Linked DNA regions of Homo sapiens. The protein of the gene in region 1 interacts with the protein of each later gene in a biochemical or structural test. Each region holds a gene or a part of one and is shown in the gene's direction. Other genes may lie near its edges.

The links. The genes of interacting proteins can lie anywhere in the genome.
Region 2: the proteins of CCDC91 (region 1) and AP1G1 form a complex in vitro, tested with the Homo sapiens proteins (one study listed by BioGRID).

What each region holds. Positions count from the first base shown.
Region 1 is NC_000012.12:28,304,935-28,312,693, forward strand, and holds part of CCDC91 (coiled-coil domain-containing protein 91), read left to right. Parts: intron 1-714; coding exon 715-872; intron 873-1,807; coding exon 1,808-2,011; intron 2,012-2,710; coding exon 2,711-2,815; intron 2,816-7,759. UniProt on the Homo sapiens protein: Involved in the regulation of membrane traffic through the trans-Golgi network (TGN). Functions in close cooperation with the GGAs in the sorting of hydrolases to lysosomes.
Region 2 is NC_000016.10:71,798,456-71,806,214, reverse strand, and holds part of AP1G1 (AP-1 complex subunit gamma-1), read left to right. Parts: intron 1-7,759. UniProt on the Homo sapiens protein: Subunit of clathrin-associated adaptor protein complex 1 that plays a role in protein sorting in the late-Golgi/trans-Golgi network (TGN) and/or endosomes.

The sequences.
Region 1 (7,759 bases):
GCTCTAATCACAATCTATTTTTCTTAAAGCTAATTGAAAAAGAAAAGAAAAGTTATTATTTTTCTGTATGGACAATTCAGCAAACTTAAACTGACTTTATTTTAGCATGAAAAACCTTTTGTTTGTTACAAAAGAGACTTTAATGCAGATATTGTTGGATTAGTTGTTTCAAAGTAATTGTTCTTTCCCCTTACTTATTTTATTGTAATAAATATTAATTGGTTGACTTGCCTACCGAGTCATAAAGCCATTGAGTACATGGGTGCATCTGTATTGCTCACTGCTGTCTCTTCAGTCCCTAATGCCTGTGACTGGCACTGGTAGGTACTCTAGCGCTTTTTAAAAAAATTAAATGGATTTTTCTGAATGAAATGTATGAATATATAATATATATATATGAGTATTTTCTCTATGTTGGAAATGTACTCCTTATGGCACTGTGTTGGTATGTAAACACTAAGACTTTATAAAACTATTTTGTTTGCCTGGATCTTACATGGAAGTGTCATGTTAAATTAAAAACACTAGTTTTAGCTTTCACAGATTGGGCCCTGAGGAATAGTCATAGAATCCTGATTTTTCACTCTCATTGCTTTTACTTTCCTTACTTTTTTCTTTTCCTCTATTTCAGCTCTCTTTCTTCCTTTCAACCTGTTCCCTCTCTGTTTTCTCTTTAATAATCCTATCCTTTTTGTTGTTGTTGTTTTTCTTTAGTATCTGGAGTCCATCTTTCACCATCTTCTCCTGAGATTGTACTGGACCGTGACCACTCTTCTTCCATTGGCTGCCTCTCTTCTGATGCCATTATTTCATCACCAGAGAATACACATGCAGCAAATAGCATTGTGAGTCAAACTATTCCAAAAGCACAGGTAAAGACAAACATATTTTTAAAGGAGGTTTGCATATTTAAAAAATTGCCTGCTAATTTAATTGTTGCTTTTTTAATTTCTTTTTTAGCCTATTTGTCTAAAAGAAGTATTTCTGCAATAGATATTCTAATTTTGAGGCTAATACTTAGAATTCAAAAAAACTATATAATATGTTTGTGTCGTGGCACAATTGCAAAGTATTTAAGTAGCCTTAGTTACCAAAGTATGATTTGAGTATCTCATTTATTAAACTTTACTTGGCTTTGCATTTCAAATCTTGAACTTGAAAAGGGAAAATAATACAAAGAAGAATAAGTATTTCTCTTTTCAGCGAATCTTACCGCACATTTTCAGGTATTCAAGCAACTATTTCAATTTTAGAGTAAAAACCAAAAATATAGCAGTTATAAGGTTTATTCATTCAAATATTTTTTAAAGCAAGAATTTATGCTAGCTGCTGAAGGTAGTCCCAATTTCTAAAGTGCTGTACACAATTTTGAGTCACCTGTTAATTTTGCGAGACAGTGGTGATCAATAGAGGTCATTGATAAATTTCAGAGTTTGATTTACAGTTTAAAATATAAACAAATTCTAGGTCTGTGTGTAAATTTAAGAACTGTTAACAACCAGATATGTCTATCCTTATTCATACATTTTCAAGCACAGGAAAAAGTTAAGTCTTTTAGTGCATTGGTAGCAAAATAATGAATACTTTAGATTTCAAAATTAAGAGGAAATTTTGTTTCTTACAGCAAAGATCGGGTTGTTGTAAAAGTTTGAGGTCTTCTCTTGATTTACTTAAAGGGTGAAATAATTTCGGAACCTTTTCAACAACTTAATTTCCAAATGTGGTTTCTAGTGCCCTTTGGATGTTTTCATTATTGGTATAGTGTAAACTTTCCTCTCTTGTGTATTTTTTTTTTTATGTGGTTTAGATTCAGCAATCAACACACACTCATCTGGATATCTCACTTTTTCCATTGGGTTTAACTGATGAAAAAAGTAATGGAACAATTGCCCTTGTGGATGATTCTGAGGATCCTGGAGCCAATGTATCTAACATACAGCTTCAGCAAAAAATTTCAAGTCTGGAGATTAAACTCAAAGTATCTGAAGAAGAAAAACAGAGAATTAAACAGGTATATTTACATTTGCCTAAGAAATGTTTGAATTGCAAATATTAGAAATTTGATATAATCTCAAACTCTGATTAAAAACTCATCAGAGGAAGAAGATACTTTTCTCCCTTGGTTGTAGGTTTAAAGCAGTCATGAGCTTATCACTTAGAAAAGCCTTTGATAAGAAATATATTTTACATATGTACTTTTAAAGATATGAACATCGTTTACTAGGTTTTTTCTAACTATTGCTTTCTTTTTTGGTTTATTTTTATTTACTTTGAAAGCAGGTAGTATTGTGTTTCTTATGAGGAGGTGAAATTTTGCGACATCAACTTTTCCCTATGGGAAGTTAGGCATCACAGGATATTTGACAAGAGTACTTAGGTATACAGCCATTTTAGTAAATTCTTTACTTATGCTTTCTTCCCTGTGAATATATAGCAAATTTATAGAAAGTGTATGTAGAGGTAGATTATGTTGATGAAATTAGTTGAGATGCTCATATTCATTTGTTGGAATGAGTAAATGTTGTGTCCATGTTTGATATTGGCCTAGAAATTAGAGTGAAGCATATAATTTATAATATTGTTAGATTTTAAGCCGTACTTCCCATGGATTCTTTCTCTGACAAATGTTTTCTGACATGTTCATTGAAAAAACTAATTATATTTTATGCCATTAAATATTACAAAGCTTGTATTTGTATTTTTATTTTAGGATGTGGAATCATTGATGGAAAAGCATAATGTCTTAGAAAAAGGCTTTCTAAAAGAAAAAGAGCAAGAGGCCATTTCTTTTCAAGATAGATACAAAGAACTTCAGGTAAGGCGATTGAACTTAAGATTTAAAATGTAAGCCTTTTGATGAAGCATGTGCTATAATTTCAAAAAGTGCATAATGAATATCTTATGAATGAAGAATCAGATACTTGCTTAAATATATAAAACTGACCAACATGGGCTAAATTAATGGGAAGACACCCATTTTGAAAAATATGAGTCTGTGAGCAGCCCTGAGGATTAGTAGTTTGAGGCCCAAACAATTTGGTAAGAAATATTCTGTTTCTGATGGATACATTTTGGGAACTGTTTATTCTAATTTTTGTTATAATAATTACATTTGAATTACATTTAGAATCCTGTAATCCAGAACTGAGACACTTAACTTTTTTAAATAAATTGTCTCCTTTTCTCCTTCCTAAATTTTCTTATTTATTTCTTCTACAGTCTAACCTAACACAGTAAATGGCAACTCCATCTTTCTAATTGCTAAGACTAAAACTAACTCATTCCTTTTTGTACTTACTCAATGTCTGTTTCTTTAGCAGGATTTGTTGGCTGTACCTTCAGAATATCCAGGTTTCAACCATTTATCATCATGGTCAGCGCTATTAACATATTGTATATTATCATTATTTCTCCCTTGGATTACTAAAGTATATTCTAACTAGTCTTTTGTTTTTGTCACTGCCCACGTGCAGACCATTCCCCCCATTGCAGCCACTGTGATCTGATTGAAACTTAAAGCTAGTCATGTCATTATTCTGTTCTAAAACCTTCGTGGGCTTCTTATCTTTCCCACACTAAAAGCCAGGTCCTTAAACTGGTTTTCAAGGCTCTGTGTTCCCTTATGTCCCTTCTTCCTCTCTTTTCCTTGCCTCTTTTTCCTCAGTCATTTTTCTTTTTCCTAATGTCCAGAGTGCTCAGATTCCCTCAGATACCTGCATGGTTTTCTTCATAGCCTTCAAGTCTCTGTTCAAGTATTACCTTATCAGATAAGCCTTTCCAGACAATGCTGACATCCTCTCCATCCACCTTATCATAGTCTGCTTTATTTTTATTCCTAGCACCTTTTACATTTGACAAATTATATATTTACTTGTTTATTTGCCTGGATCACTGTAATAGTCTCCTAAGTGGTCTTCTGGCTTCCATCCTTGTTCTTTTCCTTCATGAGTTTTTAATTCAGCAGGTAAGAGTAGTGTTTTAAAAATGTAAATCAAATCAGATCCCAGACTCAATTCCTATTTTCATTCCAATATACATTTTCAAGCTTCTCCAGTTTACCCTCAGGTATTTATTTACACCAAGCTTTATAATAAGGTATAGGTGAATGTGTGAGTATGCGTGGGGAAGGACATTCTTTGCCTGTTGGAGGGGTATGGTCCATGATTCACTCACATATCTCTGCCTGGAATGCTGTTCCTCCTGTAGATAAGTTTCTTAAAAATACAAAACTTGGAAATAAGAAAAACGCAGGCAGTGTGTCTTTTCAGTGCCTGTGATGACATTGTTTAATGTGCCCACCTCAGGAGTACTTAGGAGAAAGTACTTTATTTGACTCACTGTTTATTCTTGAATAAAAGTCTCAGATGTAGTGAAGTTACATGTTAATTTATAGATTTTTTCCCCTGAAGAGATGCGAATAATTCTGTCTGTTAGAAAAGATAACTTCTAAGAATATAATTAATTGCCCTGTAGGATATTAACAAGTTTTATCTCTAACCTAGTGCTTTTAGTCCAACACTCCATGTTGTTAAATTTCCTATCTAAATCCTGTTCTTCACATGCTGCTTAAACCAGTCTTAGCATCTTATTCATTCGGTCTTATAGGATATTAACCAGTTTCGTCTCTAACCTATTGCTCCTAGTTAACACTCCATTGTTAAATTTCCTATATAAATCCTGTTCTTCAAATGCTTCTTGAACCAGTCTTAATATTCATTCAGTCTTAAGATAAATGATTAATTCATTAGTAAATGAACAGAATAAATCTTTGGTATATCTTCAATTGGTATTTACATGAGTCAGATTAACTTTTTGAAAATTATACTTTTAACAGCTCTCGCTGAACTCTAGCTTCCTTCTGATATTTGCTCAAATGCTACTCTTGTGGAGGCTTTTCTTAATCGTGCTGTATAAAATAAGGCCCTTTGTACTTGCTCAGCATCCCCTAGCCCTTTTTATTTTTTTCTTTTCCATACCGCTTATTCCTACCTGTTATTTTATTTTGATTTGTTTATTTTCTGTCTTTTCTCCACTACAGTGTAAATTCCTTGAGATTAAGGAGTTTTCCTTCCCAGTAGTACTTGGCATATAGTGCATGTTCAATGAATACTGTTGGATGAATTGAATAGATGAACTAATATCATGCACCCTGCTCCCCAAGGACTAATTACATTGTGTATAGCCACACTTACTGACCTCATCCTTGGAACTATGGTGCTGATTAAAAGGCATAGTACTGAATAATGAGATAACTTTGTGTTTCTTTGTCTCCACTGAATGACTTATTCTGGACCCTTTAGTGAGACATACATCTTTGAGAGTTCAGTTTTTCCATCTATAAATGGGAACAGTAACATATCAGAGAGACTACGTGAGACTTAACGTATATCACTTTGGGTTGTTTTTACATTAATGACCAATATAAATGCTATCTGGCATTATCATTGTTGTCTCACTGCGTTTACTATTAATAGTGATAATCTAGGAGTGATGACTTGAGTCTTCAAAGCTAGTTCCTTTTGTAGGAATCAGTACTTTCAAAGAAAACTTTTTTCAGATGACTTCATTTTAGGACCTATAGGCTTCTCTCTCCTTTTTATAGCATGGGAATAAAAGAGTAACTTACGGAGTGTTAAACACCTTGGCTAAATAAATTATAGAAAAATGTACCAGGAGGTCTCATAGCCAAATCGAAGTTAAAGTAGGCATACTGTTCAGTTTGTATGTCACCATACCATCTCTGAGGAAAGCATTTCTATCCTCAGTCCCTTCCATTCATTTGATGTGCCAATTCTTTGTTTTTTATTTGGTTATTGTATATTTCAGTTCTAAAATTTCCATTTGGTTCTCCTTCATATCTTCCATTCTGTGCTTAAACTTTCTATTCTGTTTGTTTCAAGCATGTTTCATAATTCCCTGCCGAAGCATTTTTATTATGGTTGCTTTAAAATCCTTGTTAGAAAAATGTCATCTCAGTGTTACTATTGATAGTATTTTCTTACCCAAGTTGAGATTTTTCTGATTCTTAGTATGATGAGTGCATTTTAATTTTATCCTGCATATTTTGGGTATTTTGTATGATACCTTGGATCTTATTTAAATCTTGTATTTTAGCAGGCCTCATCTGATACTGTATAGTTTGGGAAAAGATTAACCATTTTGTTAATGTCAGGTGCAAGTAAAATGACAAGTTTTCCACTCAGCCCCCTTTGACACCCTGGGTAGGAGGGATACTGCCTTACTCCTGAGATAAGGTGGGATTTCAGGGCTCCCACAGGCCTTAGCAGATACATCCCTGGCTGGGAGCAGGAGAGGCACCTTATTACTGTTCCACGGGTGCCTTACTGTGAGATTAGGTGAGATCTTCTTACCTCTGGATAGTTATAAAAGTTCTGGCTTCCCACTCAGCTTCCTCTGACACAGGAAAGGAGGGAGAGAGAGTCTTTTTCCTTTTGGATGGGGATAGAAGTCCTAAAACTGTCTTCACAACCACTTGGTTTTCTCTGATACCACATCGAGGTCATCTATGGGCACTGCATTGTTGCTGGGGCGAGAGTGGAAATCTAGGCTCAGTACTCGGCCTTTTGTGACAGAGGTGGTTTAAAAATAAAGGCGAAACTTGGAAATAAGGAAAAAGGTGAGCAGTGTGTCTTTTCAGTGTCCTATAGGGACATTGTTCAATAGGCCTACACTATGACTATTTAGAAGAAAGTATTTTGTTTGAGTCATTGTTTACTGTTGATTAAAAGTTTCAAAGTTAGGGCCATGCGTGTTTTTTTTTAAATTTTTTTTCCATGGTATTTGGTTGGTGTAGGATGTTTATTGTCTAAAAGTTTTCTGTCTTGCTAGATTGTGCCTTTCATGGATGGCCCTTTTGTTACAGAGGATTGACTTTTATTGGGGCTTTTGTGCCTGTTGGTGTTTCCTGGTTGCTGGCTATTCCACTCCCCAGTTTGGGATATATGAGGCTAAAAGAAAACTCACAGAACTCACTGCTTTGTCATTCCTTGGATTCCCAGGTCCCTAGTTAGTCTGCCTTCCCTCTGCATTCCAGAATCCTCTTAAATTTGTTTTAATAAAATGTCCAAACTTTTTAGCTCTATTTATTGATAGAAATAGGGAGAAGTGTGTCTTTTTAATTTTAATCTGGAAGTGGGATAGAAAGCAACCTTTTAAATTTTAGTTATTCTTTGTTGTAGCTACATCAGGAAATTGATATCAAAGTTAAAATACATTAATTTGAAACAGGTAACTTTGAGTCGGTTTTTTTTGGAGGTGGGGAAACAGGTTAATGAGCTCCCATGGAGTCATTCTAGATAGAGGAAGGATGCATAAAAATATATGGATAATTCGAAATGGGAGATAATACATAAATCTCTATATCTGCTTTATATTTACTAAGTTTGTGCATATTTATGTGTATGTGTTAGATATTCTGAAAGTGTATTTTCAACAAAAATATTTACATTGTACTGTAAATACCTGATTCAGGAAGAATTTAGAAATCTTAGGCTTCCGTATTTGACCTTTCTGCAATCCAGTTCTTTCTGAGGGTTATGGACTTCTTTCAAACTAACACAAAGTCGTTTCTACCTAATAATTTCTTAGGAATAAGAGATGTGATTAAATTTGTGAGTGTCAAAGGAGGCTACTGTATGTTAAATATGTATAGGATGAAATATTAGCAAAGTAAGTTTTTAAATAGTGATATGGTTTGGCTGTGTCCCCACTCAAATCTTATCTTGAATTGTAGTTTTCA
Region 2 (7,759 bases), on another chromosome or scaffold:
TTGATAGCAGTTCTAGATTTGAGGGCAGATTTTAGAGTGAAACTTTAAAGTACAGAATTTGCCAGGAATGCCTTGGTGATATTTCACCCCAGTGTTTATTTAAAAAAGGAGTTTTAAAAATCAGTGGTATGCAAACAAAACCAACTTCTTTATGATTTATAAAAACTCTTTTTTTTTTTTTTTATTATTTTTATTGTTTGAGACAGGGTCTCACTCTGTTGCCCAGGCTGGAGTGCAGTGGTCTCAGCTCACTGCAGCCTGGACCTCCTGGACTCAAGCGATCCTCCTGCCTCAGCCCTCCACGTAGCTGGGACTACAGGCGTGTGCTACCACGCAGGGCTAATTTTTGTATTTTTTGTATAGATAGTGTTTTGTCATGTTGCCCAGGCTGGGCTCAAGCAATCCTCTTGCCTCGGCCTCGCAAAGTGCTGAGATTACAGGTGTGAGCCACCTCACCTGGCCAAAACTTTTAATTTATACAAATTTAAAAAGTTGAATGAGTATTTTCCAAGATATTATTTTTAATTAAAAAAATTGAATTGGCAATCTACATACCAAAACAGATTTTCCACAATGCTTAATCCCCTTATTTGCATTTGATGAGGATTTTAAAATTTTGTGTATATAGCAGGACTTAATTGCTATCAAAACTTTAAAACTCTTACTTAGAGCTTCAGAACATTTAAAAATACTGTTTTAGGTGTTTGTAATTTAGTCTGTCCTTGCTTTATGAATTGTTTTCAGTTCTTTTTTGTTTGTTTTTTGAGACAAAGTCTTACTCTGTCTCCCAGGCTGGAGTGCAGTGGCTCGATCTCGGCTCACTGTGCAACCTCCACCTCCTGGATTCCAGTGATTTCTGCTGCCTCAGCCTCCCGAGTAGCTGGGATTACAAGCGTGCGCCACCATGCCCAGCTAATTTTTGTATTTTTAGTAGAGGCGGGGTTTCACCATGTTGGCTAGGCTGGTCTCGAACTCCTGAGCTCAAGTGATCCACCCACCTTGGCCTCCCAAAGTGCTGGGATTACAGGCAGGAGGAGCCACTGCGTTCAGTCTGTTTTCGGTTCTTGATTTTGGCTTTCTTTATTCTCTGTTGCTTTTACTCAGTTTCTAATGCAGAATAATGTTGAAAGTAGCAAACAATTTTTTTTCAACTCCTCTCAGCTTATAAGTAACAAGCAATTTTATTTTTATTGATTGATTGATTGAGACAGGTTCTCACTCTTTCACCCAGGCTGGAGTGCAGTGGTGCAATCTCAGCTCACTGCAGCCTCGACCTCCTCCCAGGTTCAAGTGATCCTCCCACTTCAGCCTCCTAAGTAGCTGGGACTGTAGGCATGTGCCGCCTGATTTATTATTTTTTTGTGGAGACGGGGATTCGCCATGTTGCCCAGGCTGGTTTCAAATTCCTGGGCTCAAGAGGTCCTCCCACCTCTGTCTCCCAAAGTGCTGGTATTAAAGGTGTGTGCCACCATGCCTTGCCCACAAGCAATTTTAAACTTAAGAGAGCAGGCTGGTGCAGTGGTTCATGCCTGTAATCCCAGCACTTTGGGAGGCCGAGGCAGGCGGATCACTTGAGGTCAGGAGTTTGATACTAGCCTGGTCAACATGATGAAATCCCGTCTGTACTAAAAATACAAAAGTTAGCCGGGCATGGTGATGTGCACCTGCATTCCCAGCTACTTAGGAGGCTCAGGTGGGAGGATTGCTTGAACAGGGAGGTGGAGGTTGCAGTGAGCTGAGATCACGCCACTGCACTCCAGCCTGGGTGACAGATGGAGGCTCTGTCTCAAAAAAAAAAAAAAAAAATTAAGAGAGCATATAGAAATCTTTTGTATTTCTTGGCTTACAGGTTTTGAAATGATCTTTGTTGGCTGGGCGAGGTGGCTCATGCCTGTAATCCCAGCACTTTGGGAGGCCGAGGCGGGTGGATCACGAGGTCAGGAGATCGAGACCATCCTGGCCAACATGGTTAAACCCCATCTCTACAAAAAAATAGAAAAATTAGCTGGGCATGATGGTGCGCGCCTGTAGTCCCAGCTACTCGGGAGACTGAGGCAGGAGAATCACTTGAACCTGGGAGGTGGAGGTTGTGGTGAGCTGAGATCACGCCACTGCACTCCAGCCTGGGGACAGAGCGAGACTCTTGTCTCCAAAAAAAAAATAAATAAATAAAATATGTTTATCAAAATGTAGTAGCATTTTTACAGTTGCCTTTTTGTATAGAAAATTTTATTTCAATGAGGTCAAGAAATAGAAAAGGGAAAAGAGGTGTCTTTTTTTTTTTTTTTTTTGAGACGGAGTCCTCCTCTGTTGCCCAGGCTGGAGTGCATCGGAGCCATCTCTGCTTACTGCAACCTCCGCCCCCTGGTTCAAGCAATTCTTCTGCCTCAGCCTCCCGAGTAGCTGGGACTACAGGTGTGCGCCACCATGCCTAGCTAATTTTTGTATTTTTAGTAGAGACAGGGCTTCACCCTGTTGACCAGGCTGATCTTGAATTCCTGGGCTCAAGTGATCCACCAGCCTTGGCCTCCCAAAGTGCTGGGATTACAGGCATGAATGAGGTGTCATTTTTACTTTGAAGATACGTGTTAAGTTTTTTTCTTCACTGACCTAGTAACACAATACACTTAATATGGCATGAGTTTTGGTTGCTGGAAAAACTGGTTAAAGTTTGAAGGGTCCAGAAGTGGGAGAAAAAAAACTCACTTGCCAAATGTGTTGAGTCAGCATTAACTAACACTTTAGCATAAAAGGGCAAGGTTTAGGATGAGATGATTGAAATGAGAAATGCTTTTTTTCACTAGGTACTTGGAAATTTTACTTTAAAAAAAAGCCTACTCAGACCATTGGAGAGATTTAATTAGTAAATCATAAATGTTGGCAACAAATTAAGTAGGTTTAGAAGGAAGAAGTCATTTTTTTAAAAGATGAGGAAAAAATACATGTGACTTTTGTAATTTATAAATAAAAACATCTTATTATTTATTTATTTATTCTTTTTGAGACAGAGTCTCACTCTGTCACCCAGGCTGGAGTGCAGTGGTGCCATCTCAGCTTACTACAGCCTCTACCTCCTGGGTTCCCGCGATTCTTGTGCTCAGCCTCCCGAGTAGCTGGGACTGCAGGCGTGCACCACTGTACCTGGCTACTTTTTGTATTTTTAGTGGAGACGGGGTTTTGTCACGTTGGCCAGGCTGGTCTCGAAATCCTGACCTCAGGTGATTCACCTGCTTCAGCCTCCCAAAGTGCTGGGATTATAGGTGTGAGCCACCGAGCCTGGCTAAAATATTTTAAATCTTTCAAAGATATGTAAAGATGTTACGTGTTTTCTCAACCTAAAAATAAACTTCGCTGGCCAGACCTGGTGGCTCATGTCTGTAATCCCAGTACTTTGGGAAGCCAAGTCAGAAGGATCACTTGAGGACAGGAGTTTGAAACCAGCCTGGGAAACACAGTGGGACTCTGGCTGTACGAATTTTTTTTTTGAGACAGAGTCTTGCTCTGTCACCCAGGCTGGAGTGCAGTGGTGCGATCTCGGCTCACCTCAACCTCCGCCTCCTGGGTTCAAGCGATTCTTCTGCCTCAGCCTCCCAAGTAGCTAGAATTACAGGCGCCCGCCACCATGCCCAGTTAATTTTTGTACTTTTAGTAGAGATGGGGTTTCACCATGTTGGACAGGCTGGTCTTGACCTCCTGACCTCAGGTGATCCACCCACCTCGGCCTCCCAAAGTGCCGGGATTACAGGCATGAGCTACCGCGCCTGGCCCAAAATTTTTTAAAGTAGCTGGGTTGTGGTGTCTTTGCCAGTAGCCTTAGCTGCCTGGGAGCCTGAGGCAGGAAGATCACTTGAACCCAGGAGTTCAAGGCTGCAGTGAGCTAAGACTGTGCCACTGCACTCCAGCCTGGGTGACAGAGATAGACTGTCTCAAAAAAAAGAGGTAAGTAAAAAACGCTTCTTTTGCTTCCTTTTAAGACTGAACACTTTTTCAGTTGTTTAGTTTTGAGGTTTAGTTAAATAGGTTCACTAACTTGAGCTGTAAAAACACTAATGGAACTCCTTTTACTTTGAGTTGTACAACTGTATAATCATTTATATAAGTTAGCTCTTTCAACCAAATACACATTGAGTATCTCTTATCTGAAATGCTTGAGACCAGAAATGTTTCATATTTTGGATTTTTTCAGATTTTGGAATATTTGCGTTACACCACTTGTACATCCCTAATCCTAAAATCCAAAATCTGAAACACTTGCAGAGCATTTTTTTCTTTTCTTTTTTTTTTTTTTTTTTGGTTACGGAGTCTCGCCCTGTCGCCCAGGCTGGAGTGCAGTGGCGCAATCTCGGCTCACTGCAAGCTCCGCCTCCCGGGTTCATGCCATTCTCCTGCCTCAGTCTCCAGAGTAGCTGGGACTGCAGGCGCCCGCCACCACGCCTGGCTAATTTTTTGTATTTTCAGTAGAGACGGGCTTTCACCATGTTAGCCAGGATGGTCGTGATCTCCTGACCTTGTGATCTGCCCGCCTCAGCCTCCCCTGCTGGGATAACAGGCGTGACCCACCGCGCCCGGCCTTGAAGAGCATTTCTTCAAGCATCATGTCAACAATCAAAAAATGTCAGGTTTTGGAGAATTTCAGATTTTGGATTAGGGATGTTTACCCTATAGTGTTTACCCTGTAGTGTTACATCATCTGTTCTATGACAGTCTTAATTTTAACCCCAAATTTTAACAGATTATGAATGAATTTACGCTTCAATATTTCTCTCAATGCTTAGTTAAGTACTGTACATACTCACGTAAGTGTACATAGGAATTTTTTGTTTTTACTAAAGAGAGATCATATTATTTATATTACTCTATGACACGCTTTTTTTTTTTTTTAACATGTCATGGTCAGTAAATATAATTCTTTTTTTTTGTTTGTTTGTTTTTTTTGAGATGGAGTCTTACCCTGTCACCCAGGTGGTGGGAATCTCCGCCTCCTGGGTTCAGTGATTCTCCTGCCTCAGACTTCAGAGTAGCTGGGATTATAGGCACCTGCCACCACACCCAGATAATTTTTGTATTTTTAGTAGAGATGAGGTTTCGCCATGTTGGCCTGGCTGGTATCAAACTCCTGACCTTAAGTGATCTGCCTGCCTTGGCCTCCCAAAGTGCTGGGATTACAGGCATGAGCCACCGCGCCCAGCCAATATAATTCATTTTTGTTTTGTTTTTTTGAGACGGAGTTTTGCTTTTGCTGCCCAGGCTGGAGTGCAATGGCGTGATCTCAGCTCACCGCAACCTCCGCCTCCCAGGTTCAAGTGATTCTCCTGCCTCAGCCTCCCGAGTAGTTGGGATTACAGACATGTGCCACCATGCCCCGCTAAGTTTGTATTTTTAGTAGAGATGGGGTTTCTTTCTTTTTTTTTTTTGAGACGGAGTCTCGCTGTGTTGCCCAGGCTGGAGTGCAGTGGCGCGATCCCAGCTCACTGCAAGTTCTGCCTCCCAGGTTCACGCCATTCTCCTGCGTCAGCCTCCCGAGTAGCTGGGACTACAGGCACCCACCACCACGCCTGGCTAATGTTCTGTATTTTTAGTAGAGATGGGGTTTCACCATGTTAGCCAGGATGGTCTCCATCTCCTGACCTCGTGATCTGCCCACCTTGGCCTCCCAAAGTGCTAGGATTAAAGGCGTGAGCCCCCGCACCCGACCCGAGACGGGGGGGTTTCTCCATGTTGGTCAGGCTGGTTTTGAACTCCCGACCTCACATGATCCTCCCACCTTGGCCTCCCAAAGTGCTAGGATTACAGGTGTGAGCCACCGTGCCTGGCCAATATAATTCTTTTTTTTTTTTTTTTTGAGATGGGGAGTCTTGCTCTATCACCCAGGCTAGAGTGCAGTGGTGCGATCTCGGCTCACTGCAAGCTCCACCTCCTGGGTTCACGCCATTCTCCTGCCTCAGCCTCCCGAGTAGCTGGGACTACAGGCGCCCACCACCACACCCGGCTAATTTTTTTGTATTTTTTTTTTTAGTAGAGACAGAGTTTCACCATGTTAACCAGGATGGTCTTGATCTCCTGACCTCGTGATCCACCTGCCTCGGCCTCCCAAAGTGCTGGGATTACAGGCGTGAGCCACCGTGCCCGGCAATATAATTCTTTATTATTATTTTTTTAAAAGATGACATTTTGCTATGTTGCTCAGGCTGATCTCGAACTCCTGGGCTTGAGCAATCTGCCTGCATCGGCCTCCCAAAGTGCTGGGGTTACAGGCGTGAGCCACCGCACCCAGCCAATATAATTTTTTATTATTATTATTATTATTATTATTTTTAAGATGGAACCTCGCTCTGTCACGAAGGCTGGAGTGCAGTGGCGCAGTCTCGGCTCACTGCATGCTCTGCTTCCTGGGTTCACGCCATTCTCCTGCATCAGCCTCCCGAGTAGCTGGGACTGCAGGCACCTGTCACCACACCCCGCTAATTTTCTGTATTTTTAGTAGAATTGGGTTTCACCATGTTAGCCAGGATGGTCTTGATCTCCTGACTTCATGATCCGCCTACCTTGGCCTCCCAAAGTGCTGGGATTACAGGTGTGAGCCACCGCTCCCAGCCTATTAGTTTTTTAATAAGAGATGAGATATAGCTGTATTGCTCAGGCTGGTCTCAAACTCCTGGACTTGAGCAGTCTGCCTCCTGTGGCCTCCCAAAGTGCTGAGATTACAGGTGTGAGCCACTGCACTCAGCCCACAGTAAATATAATTCTATCTTGTTCCTTTAAACAGTCCTATTGTGTCTTATAGCGTGGATGTACCATAATTTATTATTTTCCTGTGGACATTTAGATCATTTCTAGATTTTTGCCACTTAACAAAGTGCTACAATAAATATCCTTGTACATGCCGCCTTATATGCTGATGCTTTTATTTCTGTAGTCTCCAAAGGGGGAATTCTGGGTTAACAGAGAAATATATTTTAAATATTATTATTGCTAGATTACTCTCTAAATAGGTTATCATAATTTTCATCCCAAATAGCAGTAACTTCTCCATATCATGAAACCACTGGGTATAAATACATAGTTTAATTTTTACTAGTCTGCTAGATGATAAATGGGTCATGCAGTTTGTCTTAATTTTAACTTCCCTGTTACTGGGGCTAGCCTTATTTGATACGTATAATAGCCATTGGATTTCCTTTACCGAGAATTGTCTGCTCATGTCCTTGCTTCATTTTTCTTTCTCTTTTTTTTTCCTCCTGTAGGAGCGCTTATGGAATGTTAATTCTTTGTTATATGGCACGTGTATTTTTCTTGTCTTTCATTTATCCTTTTTTTTTTTCCTGGGAGACAGAGTCTCACCCTTGTCGCCCAGGCTAGAGTGCAGTGGTGTGATCTCGGCTCACTGCAGCCTCTGCCTCCTGGGTTCAAGCAATTCTCCTGCCTCAGCTTCCTGGGTAGCTGGGATTACAGGTGCCCGCCACCATGCCCGGCTAATTTTTGTACTTTTAGTAGAGACAGAGATTCGCCATGTTGGCCAGGCTGGTCTCAAACTCCTGACCTCAGGTGATCTGCCTGCCTCTGCCTTCCAAAGTGCTGGGATTACAGGCGTGAGCCACCGCACCACGCCCGGCCTCATTTATCTTTTAATCTTATTTATGTCACAGACATTTTCAGGTAATTATATATATCCCTCTTTTCCTCTTTGGTTTCTGAAACTGTCTTAGAATCCATTCCAGCTGGGTGCAGTGGCTCATGCCTGTAATCCCAGCACTTTGGG